Linked DNA regions of Homo sapiens: region 2 is linked to region 1. Evidence: fine-mapped expression QTL. A gene starts in region 1. The other region holds a variant in brackets. All regions are shown on one strand. Distances are between the middles of the regions. Region 1 holds the start of CUL3 (cullin 3). Region 2 overlaps CUL3 (cullin 3).

Evidence for each region. PIP is the estimated chance that this variant, and not a neighbour inherited with it, causes the effect. A credible set is the group of variants that fine-mapping cannot tell apart.
Region 2: its variant is the best candidate, but not a certain one, in a credible set for the expression of CUL3 in whole blood (INTERVAL, PIP 0.87).

The regions. Positions count from the first base shown.
Region 1 is chr2:224,583,985-224,586,896 of GRCh38, reverse strand. It overlaps CUL3 (cullin 3), which reads left to right and starts at 1,534. Exons shown (of 16, transcript NM_003590.5): 1 at 1,534-1,953. The coding sequence starts at 1,888. RefSeq lists silencers at 1,061-1,480, 1,811-2,070.
Region 2 is chr2:224,504,483-224,507,394 of GRCh38, reverse strand. It overlaps CUL3 (cullin 3), which reads left to right. Exons shown (of 16, transcript NM_003590.5): 7 at 392-537; 8 at 1,263-1,439. Among named protein-coding and RNA genes, the nearest start is that of CUL3, 79 kb to the left of the region's middle. The variant G/T (reference allele first, on the strand shown) is at 1,558.

The DNA.
Region 1 (2,912 bases):
ATATTGTCTTAAGCAACATTCTTGTTTCTTAAGCTCCTGCTTTAATTAGCCAATACCAAAAAACTCCCACAAAAAAAAAAAAAAAACAAGAAAATATGGTATTTGCAGTGGGGCGTTTTAAGCAAGAAGGGGCTTTAAGCACAACACTCATAAGCTTAGTCATCAGGATTAAGTTAATTTAGGGCAAATTCAACCTTACAGTCAACAAATAAGTGTATTTCACTTTATATTGTTTGCTATTTAAAAGTATTAAAATTCCAGCTTCTAAATGTAGATATCCATCCCCCAAACATATGCTTCTTTAAAATAGGAAGAACACAAACTTTAATAAGAACTCACGTATTCCCTTGCAGAGTCAGAAACCCAAACATAACAGCAATTGGGCAAGTAGGTAAATGAGGAAGTACAATTCATAACAAATGGACAGCAAAACCGATAAGTCAAATTAGACATTTTGACTATAAAGCGACCAAACGCCTCTCCTCCAAAACCAAAAGCCAAAACCTTTTCAAATATACAGCAACTGAATCAGACGGTAATTTTGGCTTTAAAAATCTACAATACTCTTGGTAATGGTAGAAATGATTTATCCGGTAGGTTAAAGATAGGTTTCTATCATTCCACTTAACATTATTTACCAAATGCTGCATTTCATTAATGGAGCTGTCAGTTTATTCTGATGGTAATGAAAAACAGGTTTTAACATGAATAAGCCCTGGGTCCACCAGAAAATATCAGTGAATCAAGAGGTCCCGAAGCTTATGCAGTTTAAGGGAACTTCGTAGATTAAATTTCCACCTTCCAGTCCTGAGAGCTGTGGTGTGCACACCCAGTCCGAATACCTTGTTGAGCATACAGGACACTAATTTCCGACACTGCAGCTAACTCCTGCACAAACTCTTCAAGTTGCAGGCTTCTACTCAAGTACCCATCCCTAGTCCACATGCCCTAGAAAAACACAGGAACCAGTTCGGGACGTAGTTACACATCTAGCACCCCACGCTCCTCCTCAAGACTATCCTCCTGCTGTCCCAGCCCAGTGGGGCCCAGCCCACTACCATCCCGCTCCCGCTCTCCGAACTTCCCCCCTCCCACTCCCCACCATGTGACCAGGACCCTCCCAACCGCCGCTCCGAGCTCCACCAATCAGCAACCACCTCCACCCAGAACCCGGGACCTGGCGCTCCACTTTCAAAAAGGCAGCTTAATCCTCCCGCCCTCAGCCACGCCCCCTTTCCGCTTCCCCGCCCCGCCGGCCCCTCCCACTTCCTTCAGTTCCCTGTTCCCCTCCTCCCCTCCGGTGGCGCCCACCCTCTCCCGGGCTTCGCCCCGCCCACCAGGGGGGCAGCGCGCTCGCCCTCTTCTCGCGAGATCTGAGCGTCCCCCGCGGCGGCCGCCGGGCTCCCCCTCCCGTCCTCCCACCTCCCTCCCCCGGCATCTCTCACTCTCCGGCTCTCCTCCCTCCCTCCTCCCCCCTCCACCCTCTGGGCCGGATCTCGTCTCGCTCAGGCGGAGGAGGAGAAGGAGGAGGAGGAGGACGACGTTCGGCCTGCGCAGTGAGATGTTTGTCCGTCGCCGCCGCCGCCGCCATCGCGGAGGAGCGCGATAAAGGGAGCCGAGCCGGACGTGAGGGGGACCCCGCGGAGCCGCCGCGCCAGCGCAGCCCCCCAGCCGCATCGGAGTCGCCAGAGTCCGAGCCGCCGCCGCCGCCGCCGCCGCCCCCGCCGCCGCCGCGGCTGCCCAGGGGCCGGCCAGCTCCCCAGCCCTGCCCGGGGGTCGCGCCGCCGCCGCCCCCAGCGTCGCCCCTAGCCTGCCTGCCCGCCTTAAATGTGACACCGGCGTCGCGGAGCGCGACCTGAAGCCGCCGCCGGGGAGGGGACGAGCACCATGTCGAATCTGAGCAAAGGCACGGGCAGCCGGAAGGACACCAAGATGCGGATCCGGGCCTTTCCGGTGAGTCTCTCCTCGGCGTCCGGGACCCCGGGGCCGGGGGCCGGGCCGAGAGCCGCACGCGAGGCCCGGGCTGAAGTCCCCCAACAGGCCGCAGGCCCGGCCTCCCCTCCCCCACGCCCGCCGGCCGCGGGGCGCGAGCCTTCCCGGCAACCGGGCGGCGCGGGGCCCCGGCGCGGCCGCCCTCCCGGGCCGTTCCCCGCGCCGGGAGCCCGGGCCTGGCGCCGCGCCCCCGTCCGGGAGCTGCTCCTTCAGCCGCTCCGCGGGCGTCGGCTGCGGCCGGGGCCCCTCGGCCGCCCCACGCCTCCCCACGTTGCCGGGGTTGTAGGCCCAGTCTCCGGCGCTGCTAGCAGCCGCGGAGTCCTCCCTGTGTGGGGCGTGTGTGGAACTTTTCACGTGGGGTTTCGCTACACTTTGAAAATTTACCCAGCCTAGCTTTTAGGGTGATGAAGGGGCTGCCCTCTCTCTCTGCCCCCCTCCCCAGGAAGGTCTATGCCATCAACCTGCCCCCGACGCAGTGACAGTGGTTCCACGGAATGCTCCGTGGTCATAAACTAGTAACATTGGGTGTATTTATAGCGTCTTTCATCCTACAAGCTTCCTAAGCACTTTACAAACTCTTGTGCAGGATTGCCTCGCCACTCGGAGGAAGGCCGGGTGGGGGGGAAGCAACAGAGAGCAAACCGGCCAATTGGTTCTCCATTTCTCAGCCTTGGGAGCCCAAAGAATGAGTGTAGTCGCCTTGCGGAGTAGCTTTGTTTCATCGCTTTCAGTGACAGCAAACGTGTTCTGCTCAGAAACTTTTTCTTTTTTGGCATTACGTTGAGTCGTACCCTTGCGATGTTTAGTATATAGGATATAACTTTGGGTGTCAAATCTGGTTCAGCTTCCCCGTGGCAAGCAATTAAAATGTACTGTTAACGAACTGGGCATACTTGCCTATGTCGCTACAATAAAAGGCA
Region 2 (2,912 bases), 80 kb after region 1:
GACGTTTTGTAGTGTCATTAGGTCTGCATTAGAGTTATGTAGGATAAAGTATTTATGAACTCAAAACTGCAGTTGCCATGTTTTTGTGACATTACTTGTTTATTATGGTTTTTGACATCTCTTCCATGTAAATTTAAATTTGCTAGGACATTTAATTGATGGTTTCAAAGCATCTCATCTAAAAGTTGTGTTTTATAAATTACAATAATAACCATTAACTAGCCTACTTCTTCATGTTTTCATATCAATATATGTATATTTTTAATAGTCATGTGGTCAGCAAATGGGGGTAATGGAGAAATAAGCTTCTCTCAGTATTATAGCGTGAACAGAGATTCGTGTTTTTTTCTTTAATCTTTAATGTAGCCAATTTGTGTTTTCTGATTTGTAGACCTTGGTTGCATGTACAAGTTATTTAGTCGTGTGCCAAATGGTTTGAAAACAATGTGTGAGTGTATGAGTTCCTATTTGAGGGAGCAAGGTAAAGCTCTTGTTTCTGAAGAAGGAGAAGGAAAGAATCCTGTTGACTATATCCAGGTAAGTAAACCCAGAAGATTCTCTGTGTTTATGATAAAGGCATTTTGACAAGTGCTAAAAAGGCCACTTTTACCATGCTGTGTATTGTGTACTTTCAACTTAATTGTCCCAGTAGTAAATTAATATTTGTAATTATCCTACATATTTTAGGATTTTGCAAGGTGTGCGTATTTATATCAGGGAGCTAAAATTCAGCTGCTACTTTTCATTTAACTTCTTTGATGAAGACCTTGTTTAAATAGCCTCAATAGTGAATGTGAGGTTCTTTGGTATGCCTTAGTGTTTGTATACTGTAGTATATTGGAAAAAACAACTGGTTTAAGTATTTTTTGTTTGAAAATGTTTTGTTTTCAAGGAGTACTATGAATAAATTATGTGCCATGTTTTGTGTTTTAACATAATCAGCTTTTTTTGGTACATTTTTTAAGCTAATTTTTTTCACTGGCTAACCCATTCCATCAAGACAGGAGAATGAGAAACAGTGAGGAGGTTCTTTGGTTCGTTTGCATTGTATTAATACATATATGGAAGTTATAATACTTCTCTCATTGACATTTTTAATAGAGGCTTAGATATAGGCTTGAAAATAATATCAAAACTGTAAGTTTAAAAATGAATATACATGTTTATTACCAGCAAAGTTAAGATAAACATACATGGTCATAAGTGTATTATTTATGGAAAAATTATTATAATGTGTCCTAAATTTTGTTTTTATTTCTAAGGGCTTATTGGATCTGAAGAGTAGGTTCGATCGCTTCCTCCTGGAATCATTCAACAATGACCGTCTCTTTAAACAAACTATTGCGGGTGACTTTGAGTATTTTCTCAACCTCAACTCCAGGTCTCCTGAATACCTCTCATTATTTATTGATGATAAGCTGAAAAAGGGAGTCAAAGGGGTAAGTAGTAATGCATTTGAAAATAACATTTAATTTTATTTAAAGATATAAAATTATATGTAAAATTAGGACATTTCACAGATAAAAATTAAGCATGACCCATTGCTGTGCTTAAATG[G/T]GTGCCATGGTCTATTAAAAAATATTGTTTGAAATACTTGACATGCCCAAACGTAGTTAGACATTTCACTTAATGTGTAATTGGCTTCAAAAACAAGCAACTGGATGGGCTTGGTGGCTCATGCCTATAATCCCAGCATTTGGGGAGGCCAAGACAGGAGGCTCTCTTGAGGCCAGGAGTTTGAAATTAGCCTTGTTAACTTAGTGAGACTCCATCTCTACAAAAAAAAAGAAAAAAGAAAAAAATTAGTGGCACACAGTGGTATACACCTGTTGTCCCAGAAGCTGAGGCAGAGGATCACTTGAGCTCAGGAGTTCAAGGCTGCAGTGAGCTGTGATCGCGTGACTGCACTCTATGCTGGGCGACAGAGCAAGACCTTGTCTCAAAAAAACTGAACAACTGTCCAGGTATGGTGGCTCATGCCTGTAATCTCAGCACTTTGGGAGGCCGAGGTGGGCAGACCACCTGAGGTTGGGAGTTTGAGACCAGCCTGACCAACTTGGTGAAACCCCATCTCTACTAAAAATACAAAATTAGCTGGGCATGGTGGTGGATGCCTGTAATCCCAGCTACTCAGGAGGCTGAGGCAGGAGAATCACTTGAACCCAGGAGGCGGAGGTTGCAGTGAGCCAAGATGACGCCACTGCACTCCAGCTGGGGCAACAATAGCGAAACTCCGTCTCAAAAAAAAAAAAAAAACTGAACAACTACACAGCTGTAGTTGGTAAACAGTCATTTTTATGACTGAGAGTTAGGCATGCTGAAGATAAAGAACTAGAAAACTTTCTAGTAGAGAGTGTTGTTTGCTCTCATCTGGTTCTGAAGGTTATATGTCAAACAATAATTGGATGCCAAGAATATTAAGGCATAGATAGAGTAGATCTCATCTCAGAAAATGGTTGGTGTAGCTCAATTTCAAGCCTTTGTGATATATGATATCTCTGGAACCTGAGGAGCTCACGACAGCATAGAAAATCAACTGAAGCATAAAACATGCTCACATCTGAATTGGTCTCTTTTGACTTCATTTTGGAATTTGTGACACCAAAGGGAAAAGCAACATGTCGTCACAGGTTTTACAGGCAGTAGCTGCAATAAGGGAACAAAATCACTAAGGTTGCACAGAATAGAAAAGTCTATTAATTTATGCATTCATTTGGTCTTCCGTTTTTCAAATATATTAATACAACCTGCCACAGAATCCTTTTGCCCTTATTTAAAAGTAAGGGCAGCCAGGCACAGTGGCTCACGCTTGTAATCCCAGCACTTTGGGAGGCAAAGGCGGCGGATCACCTGAGGTTGGGAGTTCAAGACCAGCCTGACCAATATGGAGGAAACCCATCTCTACTAAAAAT